Linked DNA regions of Homo sapiens. The protein of the gene in region 2 purifies or fractionates together with the protein of the main gene of each other region. This does not show direct contact. Each region holds a gene or a part of one and is shown on either strand. Other genes may lie near its edges.

What was found.
Region 1: the proteins of KLK8 (region 2) and RAB39B purify together in Homo sapiens (affinity purification with mass spectrometry; 3 studies listed by BioGRID and IntAct, with this or other methods). This does not show direct contact.
Region 3: the proteins of KLK8 (region 2) and DDX19B purify together in Homo sapiens (affinity purification with mass spectrometry; 2 studies listed by BioGRID and IntAct, with this or other methods). This does not show direct contact.
Region 4: the proteins of KLK8 (region 2) and SLC2A8 purify together in Homo sapiens (affinity purification with mass spectrometry; 3 studies listed by BioGRID and IntAct, with this or other methods). This does not show direct contact.

The regions. Positions count from the first base shown.
Region 1 is NC_000023.11:155,261,103-155,268,859, forward strand, and holds the start of RAB39B (ras-related protein Rab-39B), read right to left. Parts: upstream 3,390-7,757; 5' UTR 3,187-3,389; coding exon 2,972-3,186; intron 128-2,971; coding exon 1-127. UniProt on the Homo sapiens protein: The small GTPases Rab are key regulators of intracellular membrane trafficking, from the formation of transport vesicles to their fusion with membranes.
Region 2 is NC_000019.10:50,998,259-51,006,532, forward strand, and holds the start of KLK8 (kallikrein-8 isoform 1 preproprotein), read right to left. Parts: upstream 3,347-8,274; 5' UTR 3,274-3,346; intron 2,918-3,273; 5' UTR 2,910-2,917; coding exon 2,840-2,909; intron 2,461-2,839; coding exon of another isoform or gene 2,326-2,460; coding exon 2,166-2,325; intron 2,001-2,165; coding exon 1,738-2,000; intron 1-1,737. Other genes in the region: KLK9 (kallikrein-9 precursor), read right to left, coding at 4,853-5,002, 5,446-5,582, 8,200-8,274. UniProt on the Homo sapiens protein: Serine protease which is capable of degrading a number of proteins such as casein, fibrinogen, kininogen, fibronectin and collagen type IV. Also cleaves L1CAM in response to increased neural activity.
Region 3 is NC_000016.10:70,301,821-70,309,329, forward strand, and holds part of DDX19B (ATP-dependent RNA helicase DDX19B), read left to right. Parts: intron 1-7,509. UniProt on the Homo sapiens protein: ATP-dependent RNA helicase involved in mRNA export from the nucleus.
Region 4 is NC_000009.12:127,400,169-127,407,168, reverse strand, and holds part of SLC2A8 (solute carrier family 2, facilitated glucose transporter member 8), read right to left. Parts: intron 4,613-7,000; coding exon 4,416-4,612; intron 3,510-4,415; coding exon 3,366-3,509; intron 3,211-3,365; coding exon 3,102-3,210; intron 2,352-3,101; coding exon 2,178-2,351; intron 1,750-2,177; coding exon 1,604-1,749; intron 58-1,603; coding exon 1-57.

The DNA.
Region 1 (7,757 bases), on a different chromosome or scaffold from region 2:
GTAGGGCTGAACGTGTACTTTGGTCTCTTCTAACCACTCATGGACATTCTGGAAGGACCTGCGGTTGGTAATGTCAAATAAGAGAAGACCACCTACTGAGTTCCTGTAGTAGGCGCGAGTGATGGATCTAAAACACAAGAAAGAAGTAAAGAGTAAAGGCTGTGCCCAAACTTCTGCATGTCAATGAACTCAGTATATTCAAGTGTTCCTGGTTAGTGACACAGTCCTTTAATAAAAATGATTTTCTTTTTTTTTAAAAAAACAAAGGAATACAAATGGCATTCCATACTACTACTAATATGTGAGTTTCCAATTGGGCCAAACTTTGAGATGGGCATCTTCTAGAAACGAATGTTCATGAACTTTTAGGCATTTTCCATGGATTCAGCACTGGAGAGTGACCCTGGGACATAACTGAGTTCTATTTCTTGCCTTCAGGTAAAACTACAACTAACTCTCCCACCCCCCAAATCTGAATAACTGACAGAGACTTCCTTTTCTGCAAAATAGGATACCCAAGTCACAGTGTTACCATGAGGCAAAATGAAACAATGGATATTAAAGTGTTCTGTGACGTGGAGAGTTCATTACAAATGCTAGCAGTTGAAACAGGATTTTTAAAACATAGAAATGAATTTATGATAGTTAACAAAATATTTAAAGTAGGTATCTTGCTACTCCATTTTTTCCATTTATCATTACCATGTTTTTTTCTCTTTCCATTATTATTATTGTTTATTATTATTATTATTATTATTATTAGCTAACAGGGATCCTCAATCTCTTCTGTGAGGAGAAACACAATTTTATTTTTTATTTTCAAGGCCTGTGGGAATGGGAAAAAGAGAGATGGCGAAGGGTTCAGGCAAAGTGCCTCTCAGCCCTGTTTCCTGACACATTTCAGAGAGGCCAACTCAACTCAGGAGCCATCAGAAGAAACTTCACATGTTTTAACTTCTTGACTTGAGGAACCTCATTATAAATATACATTATGGCACTTTGCTTACAGTGTATTAAAGCTTATTACAGGGTATGGACCTATTTGTCTCTGCAGTCACTTGCTTTAGACTACTGTGATTTTTTTTACCTATGTCTATTTTTAGGTTTTCTGTCTCCTCAGATAAAGAAGATAGACAACGAAGGACTCAATAGCTTAGAGAAAATGGCTCAATGTTAGCAGAACAAGCATTGTCCAGGGACCTACAGTCCAAGCTAGATGATGGTAAAAGTAAAACTTACAAATGACTTTAAGTCTCCAAAATCAGGCAAATCAGCCCTGGGGACTGAAAGCATTTCTCGTCTCTTAGGTTTGAAGATTCATGGAGAATGGTAGATTTACCAGAAAATTTAGACATGAACAAACAAAGGTTTTGATTTGTGAGAAGGTTGATTCAAGAAATCAACAAGCAAGCTGTAGATCACTGTCAAAACTCTGGAATATATTATTACATTAATTGTTTGTGAGTACTTAGCAAAGAAAGTGACAAAGGCCTTCTAAGCATGGACATAAGGCTACATAAACCTTAAATTCTTCCCTACATTAAAAAATCTTAAATAATGTGAAAAGACAGATGATAAACTAGGAATATATCTTACAACATACATGACAGGAAAGGGTTAATATTCTTAATCTATAAAGTACTCTTACAAGTCCATATTGCCCAATAAATAAATAAGCAGTGGATATGAACAGGCTGTTCATATAGAAAGAAATTCCAACAAACACATAAAAGATACCTTTCTTTGCTTAGGAGAAATGCAATCGCAAGTTCAAAGTGAACCTGTACAAGGATATTTTCCACAGTGGTGTTTGTGGAAGTGGGGAGCTGGAGGTAACTTAAGTTTGTAATTATTTCTTCTCCTTACCCCTCTTCAATTACCCAACCAGTATCTTCTATGCTTAGTTAGTTTTCAATAGATAAATGAGTAAATGATCATAAACTTGGGCTATTGAGTTTTCTTGATCTGGTTCCTGCTGCTCTACTTTAGTTCAAATTGTTCTCTGCAAAGTTTTCTGTGTACACTCTGCTCCCTCTCACTTCTGTCTTTATTCATGCTGTTTCCTATCCCTGGGCGTTTCCTGTCTTTGCTTAGGCAGTCATACTCATCCGGTCTCATCTTCTCCAGTTAACCTTTCCTCCTCTGTGTTCATACATATAATTACAAATAATACATGCTACAATAGAAAAGCAAAGGGTTCTGAGTGAAAGTAAACATATTCATTGATTATTCAATGAATTCATTGATTGAAATTAAGCATGTTCATTTTGTGCCAAGTGTTACAGTAGGGAGTGGGCATACAAATATGAGCAAGACACACTTTCGTAATTGCTGATTATCTATTTCCCTCAACTATGTTAGCACAGAAGTTCCAAGAATGAAGGGGCTTTGTCTGTTTAGATTACATGGCATCCCCTTGTGTGAGTCTCCTCACACTGTTTTCCCAGGAACAAGCCCAGAGTCTGGCACATAGTAGATGATCACTGAATGTGTGCTGGTTGCAAGAAGGAATCAATCGTATCTATTTCATGTTAGAACATATGTTAGCATATATATGTGCACACACACAGATGTGGAAATAAAACATAATACACATGTATTTATGTATTTAAATCTCTGTCAGTTATGTTAGGATGACCTGGGAACGTTTTTGAAAGTATGTAACATAGGGACTGAGATTGATGAATTACAGATACAGAGATCAATTCCAGCTAGTTTGTTAGCCACCAAAGGGCAGGTTGGTGGAGTTGTGGTGCAAGCAATATGTGTTATTGACCGGCCTTCCCTGCCAGGGCGCTTCTTTCCTTGCACTAAACTCCGGGTTAGCCGAAGGTGGGCTTCGGCAGAATCCTCAAGACCCTTGGTGTTGCCCTCCTGGACCGCACCTAGAACCAGGAAGTCCTCTCTCCCCAGAGGCGGTGCAAACCCCGAAGACCCTCCCACTGCTTGCGGGCCCGGACTGCGCTCCCACCTGAACCTCTCTTGACCCGCGGTATCCCAGATCTGGAGCTTGATGCGTTTTCCTGGCTCGATCTCCACCAAGCGGGAGAAAAAATCCACCCCCACGGTGGGGTCAGAAACCTGGGCAAAGCGACCCTCGGTGAAGCGGCGGATCAGGCAGGACTTGCCCACTGTGGAATCCCCGATGACAATGAGCCGGAACTGGTACAGCCAGATGGCCTCCATGGCCGCGGCTCTGCAGGTCTCCTTGGCCCGGACCGGGGACGGCGGGAGGGGGCGCCCCGCCGACGCCTCAGAGAGCGCGGCTCGGCAGGATCTAGCTCAGCCGCGAGCGCATCGCTGGCCTGGGAGCCCGAAGCTGGGTAGGCCCAGGCGCCGGGAGAGCGGAGGGATGGATGCTGCGCTCGCAAAGGTGATGAAATGGCAGCAGCATCAGCACCACGCACTCTGACTCATCACTGACAACCGGGTTACTGTAATCCCCCGCGTAGACGCGACGCCTGGGCCGCCGCACTATCTGTAAGAGGAGCGCACACAAAATGGCTGCAACATTAGCGCGATCCCTCCCTTTCTAACTACCCCACCCACCCTCTGTTCATTAAAACTGTTCTCTGTCGTTCAAACTGCCAATGTCATACCTTTTCATTGAAACTAGCAAAGCAATACAAAACTGCACAAAAAAGGGAAGGCACATAATTATATATTAGTCTACAAGTGTTTCCATGCTCACATAAACACACAAATATTATATGTGTTTGTATTCCTATATGCATTTATTGCTGTTTGTTTTTACAAAAATTAAACTGGGGCCTTACTTTCAATTAATAATTGCTTTTTGCAATTAATAAAGCAACATAAATATCTTTCCATTTCCACCTAATTTCCCTTTTGTCATAACTTATTTTAAAGTGTAGCCACAAGTATTTTATTTCTGTGAGCTACAGTCTTAAAAAAGGGGCCATGAATTCAAAGAGTATAAGTATTTTAAATTTAACGGACATGGGCATTCTACTTTCCAAAACTATTTAACAGTTTAAATTCTACCCAGCAATGTGTGAAAAGACCATCGCTCTGCATTATTTCAAGCATCATATGTATGTTTTATTCTTTCTTAATTCTTCTCAATAGAATTTAGTTAAATAAAAATATGTCTCATTGCTTTATTTTTACATTTCTCTGACTACTGATGAGGTCAATACCAAGTCTTGTGTATTGACCATTTCATTTCCTCTTCTGGGAATTGTCTCTTCATATCCTTTGTATTTTTTATGTGTAATTTTATTTTATTTTTTTTTTGAGACAGAGTCTCTCTCTGTCGCCCAGGCTGGAGTGCAGTGGCGCGATCTCGGCCCACTGCAACCTCTACCTCCCGGGTTCATGCCATTCTCCTGCCTCAGCCTCCCGAGTAGGTGGGACTACAGGTGCCCGCCACCACGCCCGGCTAATTTTTTGTATTTTTAGTAGAGATAAGGTTACACTGTATTAGCCAGGATGGTCTCGATCTCCTGACCTTGTGATCTGCCCGCCTCGGCCTCCCAAAGTGCTGGGATTACAGGCGTGAGCCACCGCGCCCGGCCTTCTATGTGTAATCTTTTATCGTTGCCTTACTCTTTAAAAAAAATCAGCTTCATTAACATGAAAATTCACATACTGTACAATTCACCCATTTAAAGTGAACAATTCTTAGCATAGGTTTTTAATATACTCACAGATATATACAACTATCACCACAGTTAATTTTATAACATTTTTATCACTTCAAAAAGTAACCCAGAGGGGTGGGGGGAGGGGGGAGGGATAGCATTAGGAGGGATTACATTTACCTAATGTAAATGTAAATGACGAGTTAATGGGTGCAGCACACCAACATGGCACACGTATACATATGTAACAAACCTGCACGTTCTGCACAGGTACCCTAGAACTAAAAGTATAATAAAATATGTATATATATTTTTTAAAAAAAGGAACCCAGAACCTTTTAGCTATCATCTCTCTATCCCATGTTCCTCCAGCCTTTGGCAACCATTAATGTACTTTCTGTCTCTATAAATTTCCCTATTCTGAACATTTCATATACATGAAATCATATAATATGTGCATTTTTGTGACTGGCTGCTTTCACTTAGCATAATGTTTTCAAGGTTCATTCACACTGTAGCAAGTATCAGTACTTCATTCCTTTTTGTGGCTGAATACTATTCCATCATATGGATAGACCATATCTTGTTTATCCATTCATTCATTGAGGGACATTTGGGTTGTTCCCACCTTTTGGCTATTCTAAATAATCCTACCATCGAATATTCATGTGCCAGGTTTTTTTTTTTAATATCTGTTTTCAGTTTTTTGGGATTTATACCTAAGAACGGAATTCCTCAGTCCTGTGGCAACTCTATGTTTAACCCTTTGATGAAATGCCTGACTTTTTCACAGTGGCTGTACCATATTACATCCCACTGGCAGCCTATGGGGTTCCAATTTCTCCACATTCTCTCTAACATGGATGTGAAGTGGTACTTTATTCTAGTTTGATTTGCATTTCCCTAACGACTGATGACTTCAAGCATATTTTTACATTCTTATTGGCCATTTGTGTATCTTCCTTGGAAAAATATTGACTTAGATCTTTTGCCCATTTTTAAACTGGATTACTAGTCTTTGTATTATTGAGTTATAAGAGTTCTTTATATATGCTAGACACAAGTCCTTTATCACATATATGATTTGCAAATATTTTCTCCAATTCAGTGTGTTCTTTTTTTTCACTTTCTTGAGGGTGTCCTTTGAAAAACAAAGTTAGATTTTTAAGAAGTACAATTTATCGAGTTTCTATTTTGTTGCTCATGCTTCTGGTGTCATGTCTAAGAATACTTTGCCCAATCCAAGGTCATGAAGGTTTACTCATTCTTTCTTCTAAGAGTTTTATAGTTGTAGTTCATTCATTTAGGTCTATGATCCATTTTGTGTTCGTTTTTATGCATGGTGTGAGGAAGGGGTTCAAATTCATTCCTTTGCATGTGGATATCCAGCTATCCCAGCACTCTATTGAGGATACTATTCTTTCTCTATGGAATGATTTTGACACTCTGGAAAATCAATTGACCATGGATGTATGGATGTATTTTTGGACTTTCTATTTCTATGTTAATAAAGCTGATTTGTTTTAAAACAGTAAGGCAATGATAAAAGATTACACATAAAAAATACAAAGTATATAAAGAGACAATTCCCAGAAGAGGAAATGAAATGGTCAATACACATTGGTCTATATGTCTGCCCTTATGCTGGTATGACACTCTCTTGACTGTTGTAGCTTTGTAGAAAGTTCTGAAATCAGAAAGTGTGAGTCCTCCTACTGTGGAGGATCCAATCTTTTCAAAGATTGTTTTGGTTATTTGGAGCCCTTTGCAATTTCATATGAATTTTAAGAACAGCTTATCAGTTTCTGCAAATAAGGCAGTTGGAATGCTAATAGGTATTGATTTGACTCTGTAGATCAATTTGGAGAGTGTTGCTGTCTTATTAAAATTAAGTCTTTCAATCCATGAGCACAAGATGGATATCATTCCATTTATTTAGGTTTTTAAAACTTGTTTTAACAATGTTTCATAGTGTTCAGTGTATAAGTTTTGTACTTCAAGTATTTTGTTATTTATGATGCTATTGTGAATGGAATTGTTTTCTTAATTTCATTTTTAGATTGCTCCTTGCAAGTTTATAAAATGGAATTAATTTTTGCATATTGATTTTATATCCTCCAACCTTGCTGAACTTGCTTATTAGTCCTAATAGTTTTTATTTATTTATTTATTTATTTTAAATAGTAAGTTCTGGGATACATGTGCCGAACATGCAGGTTTGTTGCATAGGTATACACGCGCCATGGTGATGTGCTGCACCCATCAACCTGTCACCTACATTAGGTATTTTTTCTAATGCTATCCCTCCCCTACCCCTCCACCCCCCAACAGGCCCCGGTGTGTGATGTTCCCCTCCCTGTGTCCATGTGTTCTCATTGTTCAACTCCCACTTATGAGTCAGAACATGTGGTGTTTGGTTTTCTGTTCTTCTGTTAGTTTGCTGAGAATGATGGTTTCCAGCTTCATTCATGTCTCTGCAAAGGACATGCACTCATCCTTCTTTATGGCTGCATAGTATTCCATGGTGTATATGTACCACATTTTCTTTACACAGTCTGTCACTGATGGGCATTTGGGTTGGTTCCAAGTCTTTGCTATTGTGAACAGTGCTGCAATAAACATATGTGTGCATGTGTCTTTATAGTATAATGATTTATGATCCTTTGGGTATACACCCAGTAATAGGATTGCTGGGTCAAATGGTATTTCTGGTTCAAGATCCTTGAGGAATCACCACACTGTCTTCCACAATGCTTGAACTAATTTACACTCCCACCAACAGTGTAAAAGTGTTCCTATTTCTCCACATCCTCTCTAGCATCTGTTGTTTCCTTTTTTTTTTTTTTTGAGACAGAGTCTCGCTCTGTGGGCCAGGCTCCAGTGCAGTGGCATGATCTCAGCTCACTGCAACCTCCATCTCCTGGGCTCAAGCAGTTATCCTCCCTCAGCCTCCCGAGTAGCTGGGATTACAGGCACGTGCCACTGTTTCCTGACTTTTTAATGATTGCCATTCTAACTGGCGTGAGATGTTATCTCATTGTGGTTTTGATTTGCATTTCTCTAATGACCAGTCAAGCTACCATTGACTTTCTTCACAGAATTGGAAAAAACTACTTTAAATTCCATATGGAACCAAAAAAGAGTTTGGCAATT
Region 2 (8,274 bases):
CAAGTGTCACCTCCTCCTGGAAGCCTTCCCTGACCACTCGAATTAAAAAATACCATCCCTCCATTACTCCCTATCCTTTTACGCTCCACAATATTTCCTTACAGCACTTTGCCTAATGTTTTATTTTATGTGTATTTGTTTATTGTCTATTTCTCCCACCTAGCTTGCAACTCCATAACGACAAGGACTTTGTACAGTTTGCTCATGGCTGTATATCCAGCGCCTGCAACAGCACCTCAGGCATACTAGGTGCTCAGTAAATAAGAGTTGAATTAATGATTGAAGGTGGAATTGATCTTTTTTATTAACCTCTTTTGAGGAATAGACTTCTCCAAAGCCTCTTTGAGGGGGAAAAACTTCCATCTGGCATCTCTACGTGCCAAAAGCAATATGCTCATAATCTCATTTAATCCTCACAACAGCGCTTTGAAGGAGAGATGCATTCATTCATTTCATTATTTATTCATCAGGTCATCCATTCAACAAATATTTATTGAGCATCTACCATGTAGCAGGCACCATTCTGAGCACTAGGAGAACACAATGAAGAAAACTGATGTAACCTGAACCCTCACGTAGCTAAAAAATCTATTGGTTAATGATTCCCATTTTGCAGATAAGGAAAGTGAGGCTCAGAGATGGAAAGGAATTTGCCCAGGGAGAAAGGGCAGAGCCATAGTTTGAACTGATCTACTTGATTTGCGAGCACGTGTGTTTCCACAGCCGCAAACTGTCTCATCCAAAGCATTCAGAGCAGGAGTGAGGCAGGCAGGGACCTGAATGCTGACTTTGCCACTTCCTGGAGAAGCTCCTTGACTCTCTTAGGTGAGTCCCAATGTTTTCACTGTGAAGGAAGGCGAGGGGCTCTCTGGATTCTGGAGTCCCAAAGGGACAGCTTCATTGGAGGTCCAGATTTTGGGGTCCAGAGTCAAGAGGGAGCTAGGACTGCTGGGTCCTGGGAGAAGAAGGGCCTAGACTCCCGGGTCTGAGGGAAGAGGTGACCAGGGCCCAGGTTTCCTGGGTTCAAGAAGGAGAAAAAGGCCAGGGGCGGTGGCTCATGCTTGTAATCCCAGCACTTTGGTAGGCCGAGGCGGGCAGATCACTTGAGGTCAGGAGTTCGAGACCAGCCTGGTCAACATGGCGAAACCCTGTCTCTACAACAAATACAAAAATTAGCTCGCGTGGTGGCGGGTGCCTGTAATCCCAGCTACTCGGGAGGCTGAGGTTCGAGAATCGCTTAAACCCAGGAGGCAGAGATTGTAGTGAGCTGAGATTGTGCCACTGCACTCCAGCCTGGGCGATTGAGTGAAACTGTGTCCCCCTGCAAAAAAAAAAAAAAAAAAAAAAAAAAAAAAAAAAAAAAAAAGGAGGGAGGTGGGGGAGAAGGTGCTTAGGAGCCTGTTTTCCTGGGCCTCTGAGAAGTCCAAATATCCCAAGTGTGTTAAGATTATATAAAATCCTATACAACCAAAGGTCCCATAGGGTAGTGCTCTCCGCCATACAGGATGGGCTTTTCTGGCCCTGCTTAACAATCTGCTAGTTGGTTCTTTCTCTCACCACTCTTGTTAGTAGTCAGATCTTCGAGGCTTCTCATATGACTCCTGCTTGTGAATCTCAACATCATGATCACTTTCCCTTCTTTGTCTCCCTCTGGGGGACCAAGCTTTGCCAATAGCTTGGGTTCCACTGGGCCAACCAGCTCCTCCTCTCCCTCCCATTAGTGGACAAGCCCACTACCTCGGGGACTGGTGACAGTGCCCCAGCCTGAGACGGTGCACTTCTGGCCAGGCTGGGTGCAATGATCTGCCAGGCTGATGGGCTTCACTTTGGACCCCAGGGATGCCTGGTCACGCAGTTGAAGAAGCATCAGATCATGGTTGTGGTCCTCCACATCGCTGCTGTTGTAGCAGGGGTGTGGGATGGACTGAACCACAGGTATTTCTTGCTCTGGGCCATCTTTATTCTGTAGGCTGTGGTCTCCCAGGCGTACTGTGTATTTCCTGTAATGGTGGGGATAGTTTGGGACCCAGGCAGGGGTATTGCCCCCAGCCCCCTCCTCCTTCAGACCCAGGAGTCCAGTCCTCAGCTCTCTCCTTCCTGAGTCGAAACCCCAGCCCCCTCTTTCCTTAAGCCCCAGCTGACCTCTGCCCCCATCATCCACTCACGGTTTTTTACAGTGGGCAGCTGTAAGGACCCAGTTGCCACCTACAAGGACACCGCCACAGAGTAGTTGCTGGCCCTGGAACAAGGCCGCCTGCCAAGGCTGCGAATGGGGTTGGCACTCATGACCCCCCAGCACCTTGTCCTCCTGTGCCCTGGAGTGTCCTGCAGCAGGAGGGAGAGGGTTGGATCGCCACCCTCTGGGGCAGTGCGAGGGCTGGGAAGGCCACTGTGGGTTCAAATGGACACACGGCAAGTTCTCCGCATACAACTTAGTGAGGAGGTCCAGGCTTCCACACGCTGCCACACGGGGACACTCATTTCAGTCCATGTGTCATCATACAAGAGTCACACACCCAAGAATGCCCCCACATGCTTCCACATGAGTCTACAGGCCCCGAGTACTCCCAGGTGAATCTATGCCCCCAAGCAAGCAGCCCCCAAAGGCTGTAGCTATTCAGACAATTTACAGCATCACGGAACCTACTCCTACCTGCTGCTACCTGTTTCTTGCCTCTGTCCACCCTGAGGAAAGCCCACAGAGGCTCCTGCACCGTATCGCACTCTTCACATCCGTGCACACGCACCCACATAACCCCCGCGGCATTCCCACAGACTCCCCAGCGCCACTGCTGCCTTCAGATCCCTCCCCTCCGGAGGCCTCCGCAACCCTCCTCACCTGCCCAGGCTCCCCCCAGCAAGAGCAGGAACATCCACGTCTTGGCCGCACGAGGTCGGGGGCGTCCCATGGTGAGGTCTGGGAAATGGAGAGGGCGGGGCCGGTAAACAGGAAGGAGGAGCCTGAGCTCCCAGTTCTGGATTTGGGCACTGGGGAGGCAGCCGAGAGTATCTGGGGCTGTTCTGGGCTTCTCTGGAGGAAGGAGGAGGCTGGGGGACTGGATTCCTACATTCCAAGGGAGGGGGGAGTCCTCGATGTCTGGGTCTGAGGGGACAGGGAGCTGGGAGCTGGGACTCCTAAATTAGGGAGAGGAGGAAGCCGGGGTCCAGACTGCTGGATCTCGACAGAGAAGGGCATCTGAGGCTGGGGTCCTGGAATCTGGAGAAGGAGGGTCCGGGGCCTGATGTCTGTATCTGAGTACCTCTGCACCTCACCTTCCAGAATCCAGGGGCGGGGTCACCTACTGATTCGGACCCAGTGGAGGAGGCCCCAGTACTTCAGTTCTCTGCCTGGTACACGATTCTGGAGCCTTTTAACTGGGAATCTCCACCTCCTGCTCCTCCTCCTTCTCCTCCTGCACTAGAGCCTGGGGAGCTTCTGGGAACTGGAACACTGGGTGTGAGTGAGAAGGGGCGGAGGGGATTGAACGTGAAATCTTGAGGGAGGAGGGGCTGGAATCTCAGACTCCTGAGGCTAGGGAGAGGAGGGACTCGGTGCTGAGACTCTACGATCTGAAACATAAAGGGCTGGGGGCCAAGATTTTAGTTCTGAGAGGGGAGGAGGCTGGGGGCCTGGATTCCTGGGTCTGAGGGAGGAGAGGCTGGGGGCCTGGACTCCTAAATCTAAGGGAGGAGGGACTGGGACCTGGGATTTAGGTCTGACCGAGGAGGGGCTGGGGGCCCAGACTCCTGGGTCTGAGGGAGGAGGGGGCTGCTAGGGGCCAGGACTCCTGGGTCTGAGGGAGGAGGGGCTAGGGGCCTGGATTCCTGGGTGTGAGGGAGGAGAGAGCTGGGGGCTGAATTCTAAGTACTTTTAAAAGGAGAAGCTTGGAACCTGATCTTTTGTGGGAGGAGGGGGCTGCTGCCAGTAACCGGGAACCGAAGAAAGGCAGGTCTTCTAGGGTCAGAAACCAGAGGGTGGATCAGGCCCCGCCCGCTGTCCCCTGAGAGGTCCGGGATCTGGGAGGGCAGGTTTGGGAGGCACTGTGACCTGGTTTCCCCTTCCCCTGGAGGCGGCAAGACCAACCCAAGCAGAACCCAGGAGTCTTGCTGCAATAGGGCTGATGGACAGAGACTTTAGGCAAAACTTACTAGGGGTTTAAGGGGGAGTTGCAAGGCGGTACCGGTTCCCTCATCTGCCCTTCACCGCCCACCCGTTTGCTCTCCACTCATCTCACAGCTCAGGCAGAAAGAAGGTGAGGTTTCCCGCGTTTACTGAAAAATCATCCGTTGCATTGGCTCTAAAGGTATCCAGACCCTCCCTCAATTTCCCCCCAGGTCTCCGCCAGGATTCAAACCCAGCACACGCCCAGGACGGGGCCACAAGGGGCTGAGCTCTACACCGCCCGAGCTCCACGTGGGCGGAGCTACTGCGCCCCTGACATCACGAGGGGCGAGATCTCTGGTGAAGGAGGCGGGGCCACAAGGGGTGGAGTCCCGAGGGGAAGTCCCACTGGGCAAAGTTCCGAGGGGCGGAGCTATTTTGTGTAAGTGGTTCCTTGGGGCGGAGCCACAGGCTGTGCTGTTCCAAGAAGGAGGTGATGGCTGTCGGTGACGTCATAGAGACGGGCTCTGAAGGGCGTGTCCCTGCTCCGTTCCGAGGGGGCGCGACTGTGTCTTGCTTGACCTCGTGAGGGGGCGGAGCCTCAGGGGCGGAGTCTTAGTGTCCAGAGGGGAGTCAGGGCAGCTGGAGGTCCAGGGCGGGAACCATTGAGGCTGGGACCCTACGAGAACCCCCTACCCCGTGCCCTTCGGCCTCTCTTGGTCTTCCAAGGTGCCCCCGTGGCGCGCGGGCTCAGTTCTCCATGATTTCTTGGATCCAGTCAAGGTAGTGGCATACGCTGGTGTAGACTGCGGGGCGCCGGGGTCTGGAGCAGGGCTCAGCACCCCCAGACACCACGCCTGCCAAGGTTCCATTGCAAACCAGGGGGCCCCCAGAGTCACCCTGTACGCGAGAGAAGGGCAGAGGAACTGTTAGGCCACTCTGTTCATGACAATTACACGGGCCACTTCCTCCCTCCCAGAAAGGCCCCAGCCCCTTCCTCCTCCAACATCCGAGAGTCCTCCATCTCCAGCCTCTTCTTCCTCAGACCCAGGAGTAAAAGCTCAGAGGGCCCACCTCCCCGCAGGACCTAACCTCCTCCTCCCCGAGGACTCAGACTCTGGACGCCCAGCCCACTCCTCCTGTAGATCCAGAAGTCTGGACCTCCAGACCTTTTCTCTTTTACACTAAGGAGTCCAGGCCCTGGTCCCGTCCTCTCCCAGGAACCAGGTATCCCAGTCTCCTTCTCATTTTGACCCAGGAAGGCTGGGGGCCGACCCCTCTGCTCCCCTAAATCCTAGAAAACTTGGCAGGACAGCCTCATTTTCCCCAGAGTAAGGTCTCACCTGGCAGGAACCTCGGCCCCCCTCCCACAGGCCCGCACAGAGCATGCTGTCCGAGATGTGTCCAGGGTATGCCCAGTGACAGAGTTTGTTCTCCAGGATGCTGATGTTGGCACACTGCAGTGTGACTGGAAACAGCGCTGTCAGGGAAGAGAACTGTCAAGGATCTGCAACTGTCTCCAACACACTCAGCACCCCACTGCCCTGAGTCCTCCCTGCAGCTTTTCCAAAGGACCAATGGAGCCACATTTAGGACTCTCAAAGATAGAGACAAGAGACAGTGACAGACAGACAGTCATAGCACACAAGAGAAACAAATGGAGACAAGGAGGAAGAGGGCCAAGTAGAGAGAGAGGCTGGCCGGGCACCGTGGCTCATGCCTGTAATCCCAGTGTTTTGGAGGCCGAGGCCGGCGGATCGCTTGAGGTCAGGAGTTTGAGACCAGCCCAGCCAACATGGTGAAACCCCATCTCTGCTAAATATACAAAAATTAGCCAGGCATGGTGGCAGGCGCCTGTAATCCCAGCTACTCGGGAGGCTGAGGCACGAGAATCACTTGAACCTGGGAGGTGGAGGTTGCAGTGAGCCGAGACTGGTCACTGCACTCCAGCCTGGGAGACAGAGCAAGACTCCGTCTCAAAAAAAAAAAAAAAAAAAAAAAAAAAAAAAAAAAAAAGAAAGGAAGGAAGAGAAACAGAAAGATGCATGCAGAGAGCCAAGAGATAAGAGGAGATGCATATATAACTCCCTAGCACTTTGGGAGGCTGAGGCGGGCGGATCACAAGGTCAAGAGATTGAGACCATCCTGGCCAACATGGTGAAACTCCGTCTCTACTGAAAATACAAAAAATCAGCTGGGCATGCTGTTGCACACCTGTAGTCCCAGCTACTCGGGAGGCTGAGGCAGGAGGATCACTTAAAACCCAGGAGGTGGAGGTTGCAGTGAGCCGAGATCACACCACTGCACTCCAGCCTGGGCAACAAGAGCAAGACTCAGTCTCTTAAAAAAAAAAAAAAAAGAAATAGAAAAAGACCCAGACCTCAAGGGGTGGAATGAAGGCAGTGAGATAAAAGGAAAGAGATTTGCAGGAAGATGGTCACTGATGGAGACAGAGACATAGACAGAGATACCAGATACAGTGTAGTCAGTATAGATGTGGATATGGATATATAATACACATGTGCATCTATATAAGACATGGGTGCAGGCTCCGATGCATCAAGGGATATGATAAACAGAATTGGTAAACAGAAGTCGGGGACGGGGGCTGTGCAGGGAGACAGGAGCCATTTGGGTCCATTGGAGTGAATCAGAGAACTTATCTTGGCTGAAGGGGGCAGCCTCCATTGACTCAGCCCAATGCTTGCTATTTTGGGAATGTGAGTTCTTCAAACTTTTTCAGGTGAATCCAGAAACCTGGCTTTTGTATAAAACTTTCCAAGTTTTAGATATTGGCAGCAACAAATTCAGACTGTTTTTCCAATCCACTGACCCAATTTGGCTAATGGGTCAGTGATCCGTGACTCTGAGAGACATGGTCTTATTCCCATTCTAAGATGAACGCATTTCACATTTAAACATCTCTGGGCCAGGTACAGTGGCTCACACTTGTAATCTCAGCACTTTGGGAGGCCAGGAGTTTGAGACTAGCCTGGACAACATAGCAAGACCTCATCTTTGCTAAAAATAATAAAAATTTTTAGCATAAGGCTTAAGTTAAAGGAGGTCCCATCATGGAGCAATGCATGATGGGAAATTCCCACCCAGCATCTTTTACCAGAATCAGTGCTTTATTCATGGAGGGAAGAAAATTGGAACAGTATGGATGGTCACTTTTCAGAGGCAATGGAGAGAGGATTCCTGCATCAGGTGGATTCCAGGATACTATTAGAATGCCCAGAATCTAAGATTCTAGAATTCTCAGATTCTGACACACTAGTATCCATGATTCTAGAATCTAGAGGCTCAACGTTTAGAGTTTTATGAATCCAAGATTCTAACATTCCAGATTCCCCTGGATCAAAAAACTCCAGGATTCTAACATTATCTGAATTAAATCTAAGATATGACTAGATTTAAAAAAGACTAGAATTTTGGCTGGGTGCAGTGGCTCATGCCTGTTTTCCCAGCACTTTGGGAGTCCAAGGCGGGCAGATCACCAGGTCAGGAATTTGAGACCAGCCTGGCCAATATGGTGAAACCTCTGTCTCTACTAAAAATACAAAAAAAAAGATAATAATAATAATAATAATAAATAATAAAAAAATGACCCCGGTGTGGGATGTGGTGGTGCATATCTGTAATCCCAGCTACTTGGGAGGTTGAGGCGAGAGGATCACTTGAGCCCAGGAGTTCAAAGCTGCAATGAGCCGTGATCACACCGCTGCACTCCAGCCTGAGCAACAAAGCGAGACCCTGTCTCAAAAACAAACAAACAAACAAACAAACAAACACTCTGAAATTAGAATGTGTCTTCCAGAAAATGGTGTTATATAATCAATGGGATCTAATGGGATCTTTCCTCCTCCTCCTTTTTTTCTTCTCCTCCTCCTCCTTCTTCCACTTCTTCGCAGTTCATGAAATAATGGCACATCTTAAAAATGCTAGCATCTTATATTTGGTTAAATATATCGATTGGCAGATAGATAGACTGACAGAGAGAGAGAGGAGAGAGAAAAGGAGAAGACAGAGATGAAAAGGCAGAGACAGAGGGGTGAGGGAGCAAGTTTCAGAGAGAGTTCTGGGCCAGGTCATACCCTTGGGGCTGGACACGGCCCCCCAGCCTGAGATGAGACACTGCATGCCTGGGGAGACACAGGTCTGGCTGAGGT
Region 3 (7,509 bases), on a different chromosome or scaffold from region 2:
TCAGCCTCCCTCGTAGCTGGGACTACAGGTGCGCACCACTGCATAGCTTTTCCCAGAACTCTTATTAGATGAATGTTGGATCTGTTGGACTGGCCCTTTAATTTTTTTTTTTTTTTTGAAATGAAGTTTCGCTCTTGTCCGCCAGGCTGGAGTGCAATGGCACGATCTTGGCTCACTGCAACCTCTGCTTCTTGAGTTCAAGCGATTCTCCTGCCTCAGCCTCCCGAGTAGCTGGGATTACAGGCATGTGCCACCATGCCTGGCTACTTTTTGTATTTTTAGTAGAGGTGGGGTTTCACCATGTTGGCCAGGCTGGTCTTGAACTCCTGACCTCAAGTGATCCGCATGCCTCAGCCTCCCAAAGTCCTAGAATTACAGGCGTGAGCCACCACACCTGGCCAGCCCTTTAATTTTTTTAAAAGTCAGGTTTATGGAGGTATAATTTACACAGAGTAAAATTAAACTTTGTTAGTGTACAGTTCTATGAATTTTGACAAAAGCATACAGTTGTGTAACTACCACCACAGGCAACACATAAACCCTCTCTACAAAGAACTACAACTTCTTGTAGTTCACTCCCTCTCCTCACCCTTCTCTGGCAGCTGCTGATATGTTTTCTGTCATTATAGTTTTGCCTTTTCCAACATGTCATAAAATGGAATCATATATATAATATATAACCTTTTGAAAAGTCTGGCTTCTTCCACTTAGTATTATGCATTTAGAATTCAACCAAGTTGCATGTATCAGTAGTTCATTCCTTTTTATTGCTGAGTAGAATTCCACTGTGGATATATATACACAGTTTGCTTATTCTTCTATTGATGGACACTTGAGTAATTTTCAGTCTGAGACAATATGAAGAAAGCTACTCTATACATTAAGGTACAGATTTTTGTATGGACATATGTTTGCATTTCTCTTGGGTAAAGTCAATATCAAAGAGTAGGATTTACTGTGTTATGTCGTATGTGTTTAACTTTGTAAGTTATGTGCCAAACTATTTTCCAAAGTGTATCATTCTGCTTTTCCAACAGCAATGGATGAGAGCTTCAACTGCCCCACACCCTTCCCTGCACAGTATTGTCAGTTTCCTTCATTCTAATAGGTACATGCTGGTGTCTCATTGTGGTTTTAACTTATATATCTCCCTAATGACTAATGATGTTGACAATCTTTTCATGTGCTTATTTGCCATGTATGTAACTTCTTTGAAGTGGCTTTTCAAACCTTTTGCCCATTTTTAAAGTAGGATTGTTTTTGTTTTTAGTTGGGAAGTTTCTTTATATATTCTGGATAGAAGTTCTGTTTTTTGTTTTTGTTTTTGTTTTTTTTGAGACAGGGTCTCACTCTGTCACCCAGACTAGAGTCAGGCTAGAGTGCAGTGGCATGATCTTGGCTCACTGAAACCTCCACCTCCTGGGCTCAAGGGATTCTCCCACCCTGTCTCCAGAGTAGCTGGGACCACAGGCATGCGCCACCACATCTGGCTAATGTATGTATTTTTTGTAGAGACAGGGTTTTGCCATGTTGCCCAGGCTGGTCTTGGAACACCTGGGTTCAAGCAATCCGCCCACCTGGGCCTCCCAGAGTGCTGAGATGGATTACAGGCATGATAAGTCCTTTATCGGATATGTTTTGCATATATTCTCTCAAACTACAACTTGTCTTTTTTCAACAGTACTTTTCAAATAATAGACATTTTCAACTTTGATTAACCTAATTTATCAATTTTTGTTTGTTTGTTTGTTTTTGAGACGGAGGCTTGCTCTGTCGCCTGGGCTGGAGTGCAGTGGTGCCATCTCGGCTCACTGCAAGCTCCACCTCTCAGGCTCACGCCATTCTCCTGCCTCAGCCTCCCGAGTAGCTGGGACTACAGGCGCCCACCACCACGCCAGGCTAATTTTTTTTTGTATTTTTAGTAGAGATGGGGTTTCACCATGTTAGCCAGGATGGTCTCGACCTCCCGATCTTGGGATCCGCCCACCTCGGCCTCCCAAAGTGCTGGGATTACAGGCGTGAGCCACCGCGCCCGGCCTAATTTATCAATTTTTAGATGATTAGTTCTTTTTGTGTTCCAAGATATACACCTTATCCAAGGCCACAAAGATTTTCTCCTGTGTTCTCTAGAAGTCTTATAGTTTTAAATTTTACATTTATGTCTGTAATCCATTTTCCATTTTGAGTTAAATTTTTTCTAATAAGGGGTATGCATTGAGGTTCATCTTTTTTTTTTTGAGGCGGAGTCTGGCTCTGTCTCCCAGGCTGGAGTGCAGTGGCGCAATCTCAGCTCACTGCAACCCCTCGCCTCCGGGGTTCAAGCAATTCTCCTGCCTCAGCTTCCCTAGTAGCTGGGATTACAGGCACCCACCACTATGCCCAGCTAATTTTTGTATTTTTAGTAGAGACAGGGTTTCACCATATTGGCCAGGCTGGTCTCAAACTGCTGACCTCATGATCTGCCCGCCTCGGCCTCCCAAAGTGCTTGATTACAGGCGTGAGCCACCGTGCCTGGCCGAGGTTCATCTGTTCATCTTTTTCACAGAGATGTCTTTTTTTTTTTTTTTTTGAGACAAAGTCTTGCTCTTGTCCCCCAGGTTGGAGTGCAGTGGCGTGATCTCAGCTCACTGCAACCTCCACCTCCCAGGTTCAAGCGATTCTCCTGCCTTAGTCCCCCGAGTAGCTGGGATTACAGGCGCCTGCCACCAAGCCTGGCTACTTTTGGTATTTTTAGTAGAGACAGGGTTTCACCATGTTGGCCAGGCTGGTCTCAAACCCCTGACCTCAGGTGATCCATCCGCCTTGGCCTCCCAAAGTGCTGGGATTACAGGCGTGAACCACCACTCCTGGCCAGAGCTGTCTTAATTGTTCCAGCACCATTCGTTTAAAAGTCCTTTGGTTTTCTTTTTTCTTCTGTTTTTCATCTTTGTCTCTTTTTTTTTTCTTTCTTTCTTTCTATATTTCCTGGGAGATTTTCTCAAGTACTGTCTGGTATATTTCATTTTCACTTCTACTTTCTTATTTTTAATTTCAGGAACTTTTTTCTTCTTCCTTTACTGTTCCTTTTTTACAGACAATACCCTGTACGGCTTTCATGGTCATAATATCCTCATCATTTGGAGGATATTTTTCTTCTTCTCTCTGCTCAGTCTCTGTTTCATGTGAGGCGTGTTTTATCCATATATTTCAGTGTCTACTTTTTTGTGATGACTGTTTCTCAGATGTCTGTAATCCTTGCTTGGCCACTCATATTTAAGAGTGAGTGACTAAAAAGTTGAGTGGAAGCTGTAAACACATGAGTGGGGCTTGTCTATTCTGACCTTAACTATATATCTTTAGTGGTCTATGTCAGCATCCTGAGAACTTTCCTCCCGGTCTGGCCAGATTTTGCAGAGAGGGATCCTCTAAACTCCTGCCTAGATGGTGGAGGTCTGACTCAGTGTTCTGGAATCTAGGTGGAGGAAAGGGTGAGGGAGGTCTCAGGACCCAGAATACCTGCTTCCACTTAATGCTTCTGTTTTCATTATGGCATCCCCTCCCTTAACTGTGGTCCTTATCCATTTGAGCATTTCTCATGCCTAACCTGGCAGGCATTGTTAACTGAGTAAATGAACTGTGTAGTTTGTTATTTGTTGCAAAGAAACTTTTGATCATTCACTCTCAATATGTAAATATCTATTTAGAAATTGCATACTTTACTGTTTTATTAAATATATTATGTACATTGTAAAGCAAATAAAAAAGTAATAAAGGCTGAGATAAAAATGAAATAATGCTTTCCTGTGCTTGTGTGTGCTGGCTTCATATTTTTATTAGCCAATATCTCAAGGCACAATATACACTTAGAAAAAAAACACATCATTAGTCAACGTAGAGATAAATATGTGTTTCAAGTAGTTCTGAGAGGTTTTTTGTTTTTTTAATTATTATTTTTTAAATTTTTATGTATTTATTTTTTGAGACAGAGTCTCACTCTGTCGCCCAGGCTGGAGTGCAGTGGCGCAATCTCGGCTCACTGCAAGCTCCACCTCCTGGGTTCACGCCATTCTCCTGCCTCAGCTTCCCGAGTAGCTGGGACTACAGGCGCCCACCACCATGCCCAGCTAATTTTTTTGTATTTTTTTGGTAGAGATGAGGTTTCACCGTGTTAGCCAGGATGGTCTCGATCTTCTGACCTCGTGATCCGCCCGCCTCGGCCTCCCAAAGTGCTGGGATTACAGGCATGACCCACAGCACCCGGCCTGTTTTTTTTATTTTTTAGTTCTGAGAGTTTTGACTATTTTAACTAACTTCTTGTTAGGTCAGTTTTGTTGTTGTTGTTGTTGTTGTTTGTTGTTGTTGTTGTTTTTGAAATAGAGTCTTACTTTGTCACCCAGGCTGGAATGCAGTGGTGTGTACATGGCTCACTGCACCCTTGACCTCCCAGGCTCATGCAGTCCTCCCACCTCAGCCTTGCAAGTAGCTGGGACTACAGGTGTGCACCACCACACCTGGCAAATTTTTGTATGTTTTGTAGACATAGGGTTTCACCATGTTGCTCAGGGCAGTCTCAAGTTCCTGAGCTCAAGCTATCACCTGCCTTGGCCTTCCAAAGTGCTGGGATTATAGGCATGAGCCACTGCACCCGGCCATTCAGGTCAGGTTAAATTGTCATTGTTTTAACCTATTAATGTGCCTAAGAGGGTTTGTTAGGAGTAGGTAGCTTTGACATTTTCTTTTTGGCTTGAGTTTGCATCATAGAGTTATCTTTTGGATAGAACAGAAACTCATAATAATGAATCCAGTGATAATAAAAACTCAGGTATGAAATGATTAACTCTTGCTGTTTTTAGCAGGCCCAAACTAGCCATTTTATTAACCTTACAACAACAAATTCCTGCATTTTATGAAACAGAATCTTGAGACCCTATTATTATGACATTATGGTGAGATTAAAGTGTACAGTTCACTGATGGTTGGTGTATTCAGAAGTGTGTAGCTTATATCACAGTCAATTTTAGAACATTTTCATCACCCCAAAAGGAAACTCTGTACACATTAGCAGTTACTCCCTGTTTCCCTACAAACTCCCCAGCTCTAGGCAATCACTAATCTACTTTCTGTCTCTTTAGATTTGCCTCTTTTAAACATTTCATATAAATGGGAACATACGGTATGTGATCCTTTGTGACTGGCTCCTTTTATTTAGTATAATGAACTAAGGTTCATTAGTTGTAGCATGTATCAGTACTTTATTCCTTATTGTTGCCAAATAATATTCCATTGTGTGGATATACCACATTTTATTTATCCACTTATCAATTTCTGGACATTTGGATTATTTCTACTTTTTAGCTACTATGAATAATACTGCTTTTGATTAATGTACAAGTTTTTGTGTGGACATATAGTTTCAATACTCGGGTATATATCTAGAAGTGGGACTGCTGGATTATATAGTAATTCTGTATTTAACTTTTGAGAAAGTGCCAGGATGTTTTCCAAAGCAGCTGCATCATTAATCTTTAAGATTAATATTGTCTATGAAATAATATGTCTTTTTTTATTTTTTATTTTTTGGAGACAAGAGTCTCGCACTGTCTCCCAGGCTGGAGTGCAGTGGCACCATCTCGGCTCACTGCAACCTCTGCCTCCCGGGTTTAAGCGATTCTCATGCCTCAGCTTCCTAAGTAGGTGGGATTACAAGCACGTGCCACCATGCCCAGCCAATTTTTCATATTTCAGTAGAGATGGGGTTTCATCATGTTGCCCACAGTGCTCTCGAACTCCTGAGCTCAGGCAATCCATCCATCTCGGCCTCCCAAAGTACTAGGATTACAGGCGTGAGCCATCACATCTGGCCATATGTATATATATGTGTGTGTGTGTGTGTGTATGTATATATGTGTGTGTGTGTATATATGTGTGTATTTTTTTTAATAGAGATGGGGTCTCATTCTGTCACCCAGGCTGGAATGCAGTGGCAAGATCATAGCACACTGTAACCTGGAACTCCTGGGCTCAAGCAATCCTCCCACCTCAGCCTCCCTGGTAGCTGGGACTATGGGCACATACCACCATGCCCAGCTAATATATTTATTTATTTTATTTTAAAATTTATTTAAATTTATTATTTATTTATGTATTTATTTTTATTTATTTATTTATTTTGAGACGGAGTCTCACTCTGCTGCCAAGGCTGGAGTGCAGTGGCACCATGTCGGCTCACTGCAACCTCTGTCTCCTGGGTTCAAGTAATTCTCCTGCCTCAGCCTCCTGAGTAGCTGGGATTACAGGCACCCACCACCATGCCCAGCTAGTTTTTATATTTTTAGTAGAGACAGGTTTTCACCATGTTGGCCAGTCTGGTCTCGAACTCCTGACCTCAGGTGATCCACCTGCCTCGGCCTCCCAAAGTGCTGGGATTACAGGCGTGAGCCACCACACCCGGTCTATTTATTTATTTATTTTTAAGACAGAGTCTCACTCTGTTGCCCAAGCTGGAGTGCAATGGTGTGATCTTGGCTCACTGCAACCTCCAACTCCCAGGTTCAAGTGATTCTCCTGCCTCAGCCTCCTGCGCCACCACACCTGGCTAATTTTTTTTATATTTTTTTAGTAGAGACAGGGTTTTACCATGTTGGTCAGGCTGGTCTCGAACTCCTGACCTCAGGTGATCAGCCTGCCTCAGCCTCCCAAAGCTCTGGGATTACAGGAATGAGCCACCATGCCCAGCCTATTTATTTATTTTTTAGGAGATGGGGTCTCACTATGTTACCCAGGCTTGTCTCGAACTCCATGAGTTCCAAGGATCCTCCCTCCTCGGCCTCCAAAAGTGCTGGGATTCAAGTCACAAGCCACCATGCCCTGTCAATATTTTTATTTTTAATCTTTATAGAGGTGGAGTCTCACTATGTTGCCCAGGCTTGTCTCAAACTCCTGGCCTCAAGGGAGCCTCCCATTTCAGCCTCCCAAAGTGCTGGGATTACAGGTGTGAGCCACTGTGCCCAGCTGTTTTTTTTTTTTTAAAGTTCTAGGGTGCATGTGCAGGATGTGCATGTTTGTTACATAGGTAAACATGTACCATGGTGGTTTGCTGCACCTATCAACCCATCACCTAAGTATTAAGCCCCACATGTATTAGCTCTTTTTCCTAATGCTGTCCCCCACTGCCCTCCCCCATTAGTGTATTCTTTATCCTTCAGAATTAGTGAAGGATTTTTACTGCTTTATAATGATTTCTTTTTTTTTTTGTTTGTTTTTCAGTCGGCTTTCTCCAGTTGAATGGTTTCCTTTTTGTTAAGTTGCTTTTTTCTAATCTCTTTAATGTGTTCCCTTTCTTTTTCCTCTTTCCCAACACCAAAGCAGAAAGGGACCAGAAACTTCTTGTCCATTTCCATGAATAGAAATGGGAGGCTGGGCGCGGTGGCTTATGCCTGTAATCCCAGCACTTCGGGAGGCCGAGGCGGGCAGATCACGAGGTCAGGAGATCGAGACCATCCTGGCTAACACGGTGAAACCCCGTCTCTA
Region 4 (7,000 bases), on a different chromosome or scaffold from region 2:
ACTGAAGATGCAGAAAGCGGAGGCAAGCCAGAAGGCTCCATAGGGCCTGAGGACCTCCTGCAGAGAGAGGAAAGGCCATGGGTGGACGCGGGGAGAGATCAGGAAGCCCCACGCGATCACTGAGACAGCTCTGCCACCAGGGGGTCCAGTCCCCTGACCCCAGCCTGCCCTGCCCAAGGCCACACCCATTTTATCTCCACCCAGCTCTGGGACATGGAGGATAGTCTGGCATCCAGTCTGGTGGCTTGGGCCGAGCACTGTCCAAGATACCGAGGTCGTATGGCTGGGGAAACTGAGGCTCACAGCAATGAAGTGACTGCCTCAAGGCCAGAGACCCGCTATCCAGTGACAGCTGGGCTCCTGTTCCAGGTCTGACTCCAGGGCCCACAGACCAACCCTCCACCCTCAGCTTTGGCCCCACCCTGAGGCCCCCGGTGGGTTCTTTCATAGTGTGGTGGAAATGGGTGAGACAGGGCAAAGCGAGCATGGCCCCAGGAGCACATGGGGCCTTCAGTCAGAACCTGTCCCTGCCATCCACCACCACTGTGACCTCCCACGTGCCAGAACTAAAAAGGTGCTTCTCAGCTCCTGGTCCTCTGGGACCTGGCGATCTCTCCCTCCTCGAAGGCCTTCTCTTGGCCTCTTGGACATTTTCTCTCCTAAAAAAGGACTGTTAGGTCCTTTGTCACCTCCTTCTTGGCTTCTTTTCCTCCTTCCTTTGCTGCGCATCCCCTCCCAGCTGCAGCAAGTAATCTCCACCCCCAGGCATCGGCCTGGCCCCCTCGATGTGCTCCCCGGGCAGTCCTGCCTAAGCGGGTCCCAAGCTCTGCACAGACTCCAGGCTGGCCCCTCATGACCCGCCCCACCACATCCTAACCCAGCCCCACTGGGGTTCATTCTCCCACCACTGCCATGGCCTTTCCCGTCCTTGTCATAAAGGGGACCCTGTCCATCTTGTTCATTGCTCTCCCTGGCGCCTTGAATGGGCCTGGACATGGCACATGCCAGGAGACCTGGAGGGCACAAATGACTGAACAAACAACCAGATCATCTACCCCAGAACTGTCTCTCTGTTGGCTGGGAAGCCCCGGGACAGGGGCCACACCTGTGCCAGTCCATCCGTGAGAAGGCAGCAACAGGATGAACTGAATTAATGCTCCCATCCGTCTTAAGAGCAAGCTGCTGTTACTCTCCTCCAGTTTCAGCCAAAGAAGCGGGCTCAGAGAAGGTAAGCATCATACCCAAGGTCACACAGCAAGGAAGTAGCCAGGGTGGGGCTGCAGCCCAGCCCTGTCAACTCTTCCCATGTAAGACCTTAGGCTCAAGGCCCGCTTTCCTGACGTTCACTAAGGGGAGAGGCCAGCTGTGCTGTCTGACTGCCAAGACAGGCAGAGGACTCCCAAGGGGTCACAGCCTGGGTTCCCCATCTGGCCTAGCCCATCTGCCTCCACGTCGCCTTGCCCAAGATGGCCAGTGGCCCAGGCATGGTGGGGCTCAGGCTGCATGTAAGGCCACGACCCTGGGTCTTCTGCAATACAAGTGGTTTTAGAAAGTGCTTCTCGGCTGACTGCACGAACGCGGTGCTGGTGGAGCCTGCCCTCACCATGAGGCTGCTGAACTCCTTGGTCACGAGAAAGGCCATGAGCCAGTTGGTGAGGACGCAGATGCCTGTCGCCACGCCCTTGACATGCAGAGGGAAGATCTCTGACATGAGGAGCCAGGGGATGGGCCCCCAGCCCACCGCAAAGCCTGTGGGAGCGAGACAGGCAAGACAGGCATCAGGGTCCGCAGGGCTGGGCTCCTCAGCTTGCTGCAGAGCCAAGAGACCCAGCTTCCCAGCCTGTGGGGCTGTGGGGTCCCGGATCCCAGTGTGGTCCCACCAGCTCCATGCTTTCCTGCCAAGGCCTCGGCCAGCCTCTTCCCTCCTCAGGCACAGGCTCTGTCTCTGAGATGGGGTCACAACGGGGCCTGCTCGAGGGCTGCTCAGGGGATTAAGTGAAAGGAACGCAGAGGGGCCTAGTTCCACAGCTGCATGTGGTCAGAGCTAGAAATGCAGAGCTTGGAACTTACGAGAGGAGAGGTGAGGCTGGGGAAGACCCCACCTGCCGGGAGCCGCCACAGCAGGGCCGGGGGGATCACCTCCCACTCCTCGCCCAGCCTCCCACAGGCCCCCTTACCGGCGATGAAGAGGCACATGCTGCCCACGGCCAGCCAGGCCAGCCCCACGCTGGCATCAACAGGCTGTGCAGAGACAGGCGCCGAGATGGCCACGTGCGAGGAGTTGCCAGGGCCACCCTGGGTCAGCTTGAAGTAGGCGCCGAAGGCACTCGTGCTGAACACCATGACCACACCTGCAGGCGGGAGGGCGGCAGTGGGCGGGGCACCCGGGGAACGGCCCAGGGCGCAGCAGCATGGCCTGGATGCCTCTGAGAGGGGCAGGCCCGGCTCCCAGAGAACGGCCAGCTTGGTGTTCTGGCACCTTGGCCGCAGAAGCCCTGACTGGGTGGCAGCCACCCCGCCTTGGACCTCAGCGAACTGCAAAAAGTTCCCGGAGCAGACCCTCTGGGCCGAGGAAATGGGAGGTACCGGCACAGAAGCAGCAGCGAGTAACCCTCAGCCCCGACGGTCGTCTTCGCAGCAGCTGCTGGGTACCAAATGTCCGTGGGCCGCAGCTCTTGCTGAAGGCCTCACGTGGATCACCTCCCACTCCTCAAAATGGTGCTGAGGGAGGCACTGCCATTACCCCCACTTCCCAGAGGGGGAGACTGAGGCTCAGAGAGGTAAAGTCACTTGTCCAAAAGGACCCACAAACTCTTGAGTCACTTCACCTTCCTGGCCCTCAGTTTTCCCGTCATAAGCTGGGGCTGTGAGAGTGCCTTCTGGTGGGTTCACCACAGAGGTTAAAGGCGTGGTGTGGGAGTGCCACTGGCATGGACAGGCCTGCAGTGAGTGCTTGGTGACAAGCTGCTGTCAAATCATGGCCGCATTAGTCCATGATGTTTGTCATCACAAATGCTCCCTGTCCTCCTCCTGCAGTGTGGTGGCCTTGGCGAAGGCCCTCCCCCGCATGGCGGGGAGGCTGCACAGGGGTGAACCCTCACCTGACAAGACCAGGAGCAGCCTCCGCCCTGCTCTGTCCATGATGAGAGCCGCCACAGCTGTGAACAGCACCTGGATGACACCCACGACGACCGAGGCCAGGCTGCTGTCCTGGGGGAGACAGAGCCCAGGCAGGTCAGGTGGGCCAGCTGAGAGCTGGGTCCCTCCCTCTCCAGGCCTGTGCTGGATGGCTGGGCCCTGGGCTTGGGGAGGAAGCTCCATCTATGTGGGGGCTGGACGAGGCAGGCCAGGCAGGGCCCTTTTACCTTGAACTTGGCCTCTTCAAAGATGGTCTCTGCATAGAACATGACGGCGTTGACCCCCGACAGCTGCTGGAAGGCCATCAGGGAGACGCCGATGATGAAGGGCTTGTAGATGCCGGGCTGCCGCAGCAGGGCCAGGTGAAAGCTCTGCTCTGACGGATACTGGCCATCAGGATTTCTCTCTCCCCTCCCGCAAGCGGCCCCCCTCTGGGGGTCTACTGTCCTAAGGCTTGGGGAGCGCTGACTCCCACGTCTTGGCTCCTCATCCCAGCACCCCCTGTGTCCTCAGGTGTGCAGACAAGTCCCAGCCTCCCCATGTGTCAGGTGAGATGACCCTCACCTGCCCAGGGCACTTCCTGATAGGTGGGGGGGAGCCACAAAGAGGTAATCTGGGCAAAGAGCAAGCTGCTGCCCTCATCCCTGCCACCACCAACACATCCAGCACCTGCCTCAGGTCTGGGCCTGGCCCTAGCTAAGCACCTCCTACAGCCCTGACCCTCCCCTCCCCACTGAACCCATCCTCCTCGCTGACCCCACCCTCCCCACTGAGCCCCCCTCCTCCCTAAGCCCCGCCTTCCTTTCCCCCACTGAGTCCCACCCAGCACTGTGAAGCAGGTGCTGACTCCCACATCACAGGTGAAGAGCTAAAGCTTAGGTGAGGGGCAGCGTGGGGGCTTCAAACCCATGCCTGGGTGACTCTAAAACCCAGACTTTTAGCCCTCTACCCTGCCTTGCAACTCCTTTGTTAAATCCAAGTCCTCAGCTCTGCCTCTGTATCCCCCACCAGGCCTGGCCATTCTCTTCCTGGGACAGTAAGGGTCAAAGCTCGGGCTTTGCTGGTGACTTTGGAGGCCAGGGCCCAGCTCCGTGGGGCTCCAGCTGTCTTGGCCTGCTCAAAGACAGGACACACTGGGCCTGTCCTCGCTGAGGGTGGAGGGTGGATAGGCACCTCCCTGTCCCCCACCCCCCAAGTGTGTGGCCTTGGGAACAGGCTGTGCTACCCTCCCGTGACTGCTGTCCCACTCCTGTCAGCTCTGCCTTCCAGCCTCTCACCTGCTCAGCCCCGATGGGGGGGTCTTCCCAGCCCTGCTCGGAGCCCCACAGGAACCGCAGGGCGGCCATGGCCTCCTGGCGCCTGTGCTGAGTCAGCAGGAAGCGCGGGGTCTCGGGCATGAAGCACATGAGAAGCAGCATGAGGGAGGGGGGCACGCAGCCCAGCACAGCCAGCCAGCGCCACTCCAGCACCCAGCCTGCGGGGGGTGGGTGGAGGAGGCTGGCGTCAGAGCCAGGGTGAGCCAGCCTGGGCCTTGCCAGCCTCAAAGACTCAGCTTCAGAGATGGGGCCTCGCTGCCTCTGCACATCTGCCCTCATGTTCGCTACTGACATTGCCATTATCACAACTGTTCATGAAGGCACATGGCACGGGCCAATCACACCAGCTGCGGAAGCGACAGTGGGTATGACAACGCGGACATTACTAGGCTGCATCCGTTCAACGAAACATTTATGTAGCCACAAAAATGAAGGATGAGGTGCTTGCTGCGTGTCCGCATGGTATGATGTGGCACCATTTGTAGAAGAGGTGGGGGAGGGAGGATAAATATGCATGTCCCTCATATGAACAGACTCTCTGAAGGCTACCAAGAAACAGGCAATGGGGACTCCCCCAGACAAGAAAGGGACAGAGGCGGAGGAAGCTTTTCACTGGACATCTCTCCACTCTGGCACTTGAGTGTTGAGTCATTTGAATGCATTATCTATTCAAAGTATACATGAAAGTAGAGAGGTGAGAGGATTTTGCTGTCTTGACGTATGAAGAACAGCATAAGTGCAGAATTACCTAGTTTTATATAAAGTTAAAAGGTTCTCTTACAAAGGGGCCCTGGAATAAATGAGTCTAGGGCATTGCTGCTCTAATTACTAATTTTTCCTAAGCCCAAGGCTTACCCATCCCTGGTTCCCAGTGGAAAAATACCTCTAAGGTAGCCATGATGTCCCTATTTTTCTTCTGTGCTGGGGGTGCAGACAATTGTTCTATGAAGTCTAGTCGTTGGAACATGATTGCCCCAATGTGAAGCAAACGTGCCACCACCATGTCACTTTGTGGAGTTATCAGAGTTCACCCACCCCAGTGGATCGAAACTCACAGAAATTGATCAGGAAAGGCAGGAGAAGCAACAAGCACATATTAAGATGAGCTGAAGATAGTGCCACGGGTGGGTGGACACCCAGTACCTGTCCCCGAAATGATGAATGTCAACACCTGCACACAGTGGGGGCTTTGGTTTACTCAGGTCTCCCAAGGTAGCCAGATCGCTGGCAGGATTCTGAATTTGTTAGGGTGGTTAAGTGGGTAAAAATGAAACACCAAAGACCTGTGTATCATCCGCCCTGACGATGCAGAGGGCTTGTGCCCTGGGCCAGGCCATAGCCCGTCAGGCCCCCGAGGCCTCCTACCCCGATGATCCCCATGGTTCTCAAGTCATCCCTTGACAATTCTCATTTGGAACCCACTGTTAGGCACTTTTCATGTGTCAATTAATTTAATGGACAGGTACTGGACTAGATGAGGTTATGCCCATTTCAAGACAGAGAAACTGAGGCTTTCAGAGGTGGTATGACTTGGCCAAGGTCACACAGCACGTAGGAGAGGCTATCCCCAAACTCAGGATGGTCAGATTTGAAGCCTGCCCTTGTTTTTTCTTTCTTTTTGAGACAGAGTCTCACTGTGTCGCCCACACTGGAGTGCAGTGGCGCGATCTCAGCTCACTGAAACCTCAGCCTTCTGGGTTCAAGCAATTCTTGTGCCTCAGCCCCCCAGGTAGCTGGGATTACAGGTGCCCACCACCACGCCTGGCTAATTTTTGTATTTTAAATAGAAATGGGTTTTCACCATGTTGGCCAGGCTGATCTCGAACTCCTGACCTCAAGTGATCCGCCCACCTCTGCCTCCCAAAGTGCTGGGATTACAGGTGTGAGCCACTGGGTCTGGCCTCTAAAGCCTGGCCTCTTTCTAATGAGAACACACCTGTCTCCTGAAGTTTCTTCATGCTGGCCCAGCTTTGCCCCTCGGGGTCCCCAGGACCCCGGCCTCCTTCACGTTGCAACTCGCCGACATGGTGAATCTGGCACTGACATTCTCAGGGGACTTGCTCAGCCCTTTACTCGCCCGGGCTGAAGATTTTTACAGGGACCCACCCACCTCTGGAGCCCTCTGGTTTGTCACTGCACAGTAAGGTACTGACCTAAGCAGTCAGCCCTTCCCACACCCCTAGAGGGGGCTTCAGGAAAGCTGAGGGTATCACCTTCTCCAGCTGTCCCTGGAACTCAGTCATAAGACACACCTATCGGCCGGGCGCGGTGGCTCACACCTGTAATCCCAGCACTTTGGGAAGCTGAGGTTTGGCGGTTCATGAGGTCAGGAGATCAAGACCATCCTGGCTAACACGGTGAAACCCCCTTTCTACCAAAAATACAAACAATTAGCCAGGTGTGGTGGCACATGCCTGTAGTCCCAGCTACTTGGGAAGCTGAGACAGGAGAATCGCTTGAACCCAGGAGGCAGAGGTTGCAGAGAGCCACCACTGCACTCCAGCCTGGGCGACAGAGCGGGACTCTGTCTCAAAAAAAAAAAAAAA